Linked DNA regions of Homo sapiens. The protein of the gene in region 2 interacts with the protein of the main gene of each other region in a pairwise test. Each region holds a gene or a part of one and is shown on either strand. Other genes may lie near its edges. The genes, in order: TRPV2 and CDH6.

Region 1 (3,826 bases), on a different chromosome or scaffold from region 2:
TAGACAAGAAAGTGAGGTTCACACACCCCAGGGAGCACTCCAAAAAACTTGGGAGGGCAGCGAAAAAGGGTTAAAACTTCTATTTATGTTTATCGTTTCCTTAATCTTTCAAAAATCTCCACTGTAAGCCCATGAGGCCAGCCCTGGTGAGCTATTGGCAAAAGCTATTTGGAACAGGCCATTGGTAAGCTATCTGGAACAAAGTGGGGGCTGCCTCATGTTTACTCTTCCTACCAGAATAACTTCCAGCTAGTCAAAGCTCTAGGCATTAAAAATGCAGCTGCAGGCTGGGCGTTTCGGCTCATGCCTGTAATCTCAGCACTTTGGGAGGCTGAGGCAGGTGGATCACCAGAGGTCGGGAGTTTGAGACCAGCCTGACCAACATGGAGAAACCCCGTCTCTACTAAAAATACAAAATTAGCCGGGCGTGGTGGCACATGCCTGTAATCCCAGCTACTCGGGAGGCTGAGGCAAGAGAATCGCTTGAACTCCGGAGGCGGAGGTTGCAGTTAGCCGAGATCGCGCCATTGTACTCCAGCCTGGGCAACAAGAGCGAAACTCCATCTCAAAAAAAAAAAAAAAAAAATGCAGCTGCAAAAGTTTGGAAGAAAATATGGGTATGAAGATTATATATATACTATATATAATTATAATGTATAATATAATGTATAATAGTTATAACATATATTATGTACATATAATATGTATTATATATATAAAATCTTGTAGCAGGAATTAGACAATAGCAAAACCATGGAACCTTAAAGGAAAAGATAGTCACACTTGCAGATTATAAAAATTTTTAAATCCTGTATAGCAAAAAAAACATAAAATTCAAAAGACAAATGATGAACTAGGAGAAATTTTACAAGTGCTATGGTAGACAAAATACTAAATTCATTATAAAGTTATCAATAAATATGCAGAAACAGAATAGCAAAATAGGCAAAAGATATAAAAAGGCTATCTCTTAATAAAGAAACACAAACGACTTTTAAAAATTCCCAATGTTTGGCCGGGTGCCATGGCTCACACCTGTAATCCCAGCACTTTGGGAGGCCGAGGTGGGCAGATCACCTGAGGTCAGGAGTTCAAGACCAGCCTGGCCAACATGGTGAAACCCCATCTCTACTAAAAATACAAAAAATTAGCTGGGTGCAGTGGCGCGTGCCTGTAATCCCAGCACTTTGGGAGGCCGAAGCGGGTGGATCACGAGGTCAGGAGTTCAAGACCAGCCTGACCAACATGGTGAAACCCCTCTTTACTGAAAATACAAAAAAAAAATTAGCCAGGCATGGTGGTGGGTGCCTGTAATCCCAGCTACTCAGGGGGCTGAGGCAGGAGAATTGCTTGAACCTGGGAGGCAGAGGTTGCAGTGAGCCGAGATCATGTCACTGCACTCCAGCCTGGGTGACAGAGCGAGGGTCCGTCTCAAAAAAAAAAAAAACAAAATTAGCTGGGTGTGGTGGCACATGCCTGTAATCCCAGCTACTTGGGAGGCTGAGGCAGGAGAATCGCTTGAACCTGGGAAGCAGAGGTTGCGGTGAGCCGAGGTCGCACCATTGCACTCCAGCCTGGGCAACAAGAGCGAAACACCGTCTCAAAAAAAAAAAATCTCAATGTTTTATAATGTAATATATTCAGTAGTTCATATGCAATTTATAAATAAACAGAAATATATCAGAGGTACATACTGAAAATTTTCTTACTAACAGGAGTGTTCCATTGAAAAGCAGAGAAGCCACTGCTCTTCACCACCCCCTGGGTTCTTTCTGCAGAAATTTTGGGATGAGACCTACTGCTTCCTGGAGAGGGGAAGTGGGAAGGGGACAGCCGCTCACCTCGATCTTGCCCTCCTTGGCGGCCAGCTTCAGAGGCGTGAGATCCTGCAGGTTGCGGATGTCCTCAAGCTGCACGGTAGGGCAGAGGCGGGCCCCAGCTTGGAGGAGCCCATCATACATGCTGGTCACCAGTGCAATGTTCTCAGCTGAGTTGTCCGAGATCATCACTAGGGCATGCAGGACTGTGTTGCCCTGGGAGTCAGTGGCCTGCAGGCTGGCGGGCTGGTGTGGGTTCTCCAGGAGGTAGCTTACCACATCCCACTGCTTGGTGCAAGCGGCCAAAGAGAGGGGTAGCTCACCTGCAGGCCAAGAGAGCAGCTTGGGCCCCAGGCCTCCTGCTTTCCATCTGCCTACTCCTCATGCTCCTTGGACAAAAGGCCAGCCCTCCTTGAAACAGGTCAGGCTTCTTTACCACTGAAGGGAGCAGAACAGGGGCCAGCCAACCTGCTGCCTTTTGCTGTCTTCTTTGCCAGAGCCCAGGCATGCTGCCTCTTTATTCAGGCTCTGCCTGGCCAAGTCACATGCCAGTGCTAGCAGCCCCTATTTCTTTCCCTGGGTCTGGGTCTGGGTGCATGCCCGTCTTCTGGCCAGACGAGGATGAAACATCTCTTATGACAAATTAATGCTGGATGTGGTGGCACACACTTGTAGCCCCAGCTCGAGAAGCTAAGGCAGGAGGATTGTTAGAACCCAGGAGTTTGAGGCTGGCCTGGACAAAAGACAAACTGCTTTTGCAGGCAGCCTAGTGGTTAGAAGCAGGGCATCGGGGTCAGAAAAACCTAGGTTTAACTGCCAGCTCTGTCATACACTAACCATGTGACCTTGAACCAGGCCTTACTCTCTCTTTGCCTCGATTTATCCAAGAAAGGCTCACTCACCGAAATAAAAGCAAGTCCCTTGGCCCTTCTGGAAGAAGCGGCCGCAGGCCCGGGCATGCACATTGGCCCCATTCTCCACCAGGAGCTTCACACACTGCAGACTCCTCTTCTCAATGGCGATGTGCAGAGCGCTGTGGCCTCGGTAATAGTCATCTGTGCACTGGGCATTTACCAGGGGCTGAGGATTGCCAGAGTCCCTGTCGATCTGCAGCAGTGGCAGAATGCAGGCATTGACTCCGTCCTTAAGGTTCAGCACAGCCTTCATCAGGCACGTCTTACCTGTGGAGCCCTCTGTGGGAAGAAGGGAGGGGAAGGGGCACAGTGGTGCTGAGACCTGGAGTGGCTGGGCTGCCCGATAGCTCTTATAAGCCCAGCTCAAAGTACCCCTTGGGAGGATTAAAAGAGATGCTACACATAACTGGTGGGAGCACAACCATGTTATAGGCTATTAAGGCTCCAAGTAACAGATAAGAAATACCAACAGACATGACTACAATTTCTGCCCTAGAAACGAAATTTCTTTTTTTTTCTTTTTCTTTTCTTTTCTTTTCTTTTTTTTTTTTTTTTGAGACAGAGTCTTGCTCTGTCACCCAGGCTGGAGTGCAGTGGCGCAATCTTGGCTCACTGCAAGCTCTGCCTCCCAGGTTCACGCCGTTTTCCTGCCTCAGCCTCCCCAGCAGCTGGGACCACAGGCGCACACCGCCACACCCGGCTAATTTTTTTTGTTGTTTTGTTTTGTTTTTTGTTTTCAGCAGAGACGGGTTTTACCGTGTTAGCCAGGATGGTCTCGATCTCCTGATCTCATGATCTGCCCACCTCGGCCTCCCAAAGTGCTGGGATTACAGGCGTGAGCCACTGCGCCCGGCTTAGAAACTAAATTTCTAAGACATAAGTCATCATTCGTGAAATGCTGTCTACAGCAGAACATTCAGAGCAGTATTTGTACATGACTCCACCACTTAATGTCTCTATCTCCTCTGGCAAGTCACGTGGCCTCTCTTAATCTCAGTTTTCGTTACTGTAAAATGGGAATGTTCCAGGATTATTGTAAGGTTCAAAGGGAATAATATAAGGCCAGGCGCAGTGGCTCACGCCTGTAATCCCAAC
Region 2 (3,826 bases):
AATCAGGAAACAACAGGTGCTGGAGAGGATGTGGAGAAATAGGAACACTTTTACACTGTTGGTGGGACTGTAAACTAGTTCAACCATTGTGGAAGTCAGTGTGGCGATTCCTCAGGGATCTAGAACTGGAAATACCATTTGACCCAGCCATCCCATTACTGGGTATATACCCAAAGGACTATAAATCATGCTGCTATAAAGACACATGCACACGTATGTTTATTGTGGCATTATTCACGATAGCAAAGACTTGGAACCAACCCAAATGTCCATCAATGATAGACTGGATTAAGAAAATGTGGCACATATACACCATGGAATACTATGCAGCCATAAAAAATGATGAGTTCATGTCCTTTGTAGGGACATGGATGAAATTGGAAATCATCATTCTCAGTAAACTGTCGCAAGAACAAAAAACCAAACACCGCATATTCTCACTCATAGGTGGGAATTGAACAATGAGATCACATGGACACAGGAAGGGGAATATCACACTCTGGGGACTGTTGTGGGGTGGGGGGAGGGGGGAGGGATAGCATTGGGAGATATACCTAATGCTAGATGACGAGTTAGTGGGTGCAGCGCACCAGCATGGCACATGTATACATATGTAACTAACCTGCACAATGTGCACATGTACCCTAAAACTTAAAGTATAATAATAAAAAATAAATAAAAAAAAAAAAGGACCTGCCTGAAACATCTCTCTCTCTCTCTCGCTTTATAAAAAAGCAGGTAAATCAGAGAGGGAAAATGTGGAACTGATATTTATCACAAGGCCACACTAATAGAATTAATCTTTTATGAAACACTGACAATATCTCTACTAGATACTTTTAAACAAGTAGCTTAATACAAGAATAATTGTTGGGAGAAAAGTCGCTGAACTTGGTTCAAATGAGGAGTCAGCAGTAATGTAACAGTCAAGGTAGATTTTATCATTTTGCATTGGTAATTAGACTGACCACAAGCCATTTTGATTGGTATTAAATTAGAAACTGTTGCTAAGGGGAGCTTAGAATATTTTGTTGAGTACAAAACTGAGCAGTTGCAAATATATATATATTTTGCATATATATATGTGTGTGTATATATACATATAGTTTTATATATGTCACATATATACACATATATATGTGACATATACATATATGCGTGTATATGTTACATATATACACGCATATATGTATATATGTAACATATATACGCATGTATGTATATATGTGTATATATACATACAGTTGCATATATATATATGTGTGTGTATATATATATATTTTTTTGAGGTGAAGTTTTGCTCTTATCACCCAGGCTGGAGTAGAATGGCGTGATCTGGGCTCACTGCAACCTCCGCCTCCTGGGTTCCAGCGATTCTCCCTCTCAGCCTCCTGAGTAGCTGGGATTATAGGTGCCTGCCACCATATCTGGCTAAGTTTTTTGTATTTTTAGTAGAGATGGGGTTTCACTATGTTGGTCAGGCTGGTCTCAAACTCCTAACCTCAGTTGATCCGCCTGCCTTGGCCTCCCAAAGTGCTGGGATTAGAGGCATGAGCCACCATGCCCGGCCTGCAAATATTTTAAAGTGGATGCTAGTAGATTAATGAGACTCTCTTTCTTTTTTAATTCTGCAAAAGGAGATTTAAGCTTTGCAGTTAAAAATACGATAAGCTCATTTTAATGACTGAAATCTATACTATACACTAGAAGGCAATTGCTTTTTGAAGTAAAAATGTATATCTCAAAACACAGACCAACATGTTAGTAAATTTTTGTCTACAATTATACAAAGTTCACTTTTAGAAAAAAAAAGACACTGATTTTATAATTTATATGGTTAAGGTGGGCTGTGTTTGTTCCGGCTTATAGAGTTAGATATAAATTTAAAACTTTTCATTTCCCACTGAATTATCCGCTTTGTAATCAAGTGGGCAAATTCACTATTAATGACACATTCTGGCCATGAGCTTGGCAAAGCATATTTTTTTTGAGGATATGTTAATATGGTCAAAGATCATATTAGTATTCCAAATGTTAGTATTAATCTCTGTAAGTTTTAATTAAGAGACCCAAGGATACCTTTTCATTAAATGGCTTTTGTTTAGTTTGTCTTTTTGGTGTTTTAAATATAATTATAATTCCCCTTTACTTTTTGTTCATCCAGATAAGAAGGAAGAGAACCAGGTCAATCATTTCTCAACATGATGTCAGTCATTGTATTAAACCAGTGGTCCCCAGACTTTTGGATTTCATGGAACATTAACAGTTTTATTTTTTAAAGGGGAGAGGATTGACATTGAGTTACTTGCCAAATTTAAATTTTGCCAAGGAAAGAGCCATCATAATCTTTCCCCATATTTCCATGAAAGAATTGACATTTTAACTTCAAAGCAGTGGGAAGGTTACTGTCTGATTTCTTTAAATCAAATAAATTGAGATTTATGAGACACACAATAGGTTGTCATCATTTCTCATATCTAACCACTGACCAATGATTTTTTTTATTTCAAAGATGGATACAACTTTGGGTCTCCTGGGGAATCACTGATTTAGATAAGGTTTACTCAAAACTGCCATCAATCCATTACAAATAAAACAAAACCCCAAACCTTATCATATGTCTCCCTAGCAATGGTCAATATTTTGAGGGAAAATATTAATTCTTCTTTGCAATAGGAAATTTGCAAAATGTAGGAACACACAAAATTCTTAAAGAAGCCTACATCCTTATCTTCACCGCAAGTATCCACATTTGTCCCTTCACAGAATAATTATAAATAATAATATTCTTTATTTAAATTTCCTCTTTAATTTTTAATGCCAGAATTAAATGGTGATGATAAAAAGCAATAACATTCAACAACTAGAAATCAAGCCACAGCAGAGAAAGATAGAGATAAGAGAACAAAATAAATCAAATATATCCATGGATAAGTTATTCATCTCTCTGGTCATCAGTTATCTCACAGTTAAATGAAGAGTATTAGATAAAGTCATCTTTAAGCTCCTTCCTGTGTCTCACATTCTCTGATTATATTTCTAATGATCAAACTTTCCTTGAAGGCTAGATTAACTACATGACTTTTTGAATGGCGGCAATAGAAAGAAGAGAATATAATGAAAATGGCTCATCAATGTCAACCATATAAAACGTGACTGTATTAAGAGGGTTTCTTCCTCCCTCCCTTCCTCCCTCTCTCCCTCACTCCTCTCTCTCCCTCCTTCCTTCTCCCAACTTCCCTCCCTTTCTCCTTTCCTCCCTCCCTCTTTCTTTCCTTGCTTTTGTGGCGATTGTTTTCTGGTGGCATGGTAGTGGTGTGTATATGTGTGTGTGTGTGTGTGTGTGTGTGTGTGTATGTATGTGTGAAATTTTACTTGGTAAATCATTCAGAACAAATACCAAATTGTGATAGTAATGAAGTAACAAAATAAATGTGGTCATAAAAAATTATTTTTACTTACTAGATGAAGAAGGACACAAACACTATCTTACTTAGCTCTACCCAGAGTCCCAAATGCTACATCCATGGTAATGTCAACGAGCTGAGAATGGACTGATGCCCTTAGTGGGTGCTGTGAGGTTGAGGTGTCCCTCCCCTCTCAATGCAATGAACAGGTGTCATTTTAGCTACCTTCCTGAAATACCCCTTTCCTCATAAAGATCCCTCTGAAGGCAGGATAAGATAATTTATTCTCATATAAAAAGTACCATCATTATGTTCATAAAAATGGCCCACACAATGCTTTCTACTACAATTATAAATTCTGACACATGCTTGCAGATGATTTTTCAAAAATGAATAACTTAAAAACATCTTCCTGAGCC

What was found.
Region 1: the proteins of CDH6 (region 2) and TRPV2 interact in a protein complementation assay, tested with the Homo sapiens proteins (one study listed by IntAct).

Annotation. Positions count from the first base shown.
Region 1 is NC_000017.11:16,421,783-16,425,608, reverse strand, and holds part of TRPV2 (transient receptor potential cation channel subfamily V member 2), read right to left. Parts: intron 3,011-3,826; coding exon 2,720-3,010; intron 2,141-2,719; coding exon 1,842-2,140; intron 1-1,841. UniProt on the Homo sapiens protein: Calcium-permeable, non-selective cation channel with an outward rectification. Seems to be regulated, at least in part, by IGF1, PDGF and neuropeptide head activator. May transduce physical stimuli in mast cells.
Region 2 is NC_000005.10:31,200,097-31,203,922, reverse strand, and holds part of CDH6 (cadherin-6 isoform 1 preproprotein), read right to left. Parts: intron 2,249-3,826; exon of another isoform or gene 2,165-2,248; intron 61-2,164; exon of another isoform or gene 1-60. UniProt on the Homo sapiens protein: Cadherins are calcium-dependent cell adhesion proteins. They preferentially interact with themselves in a homophilic manner in connecting cells; cadherins may thus contribute to the sorting of heterogeneous cell types.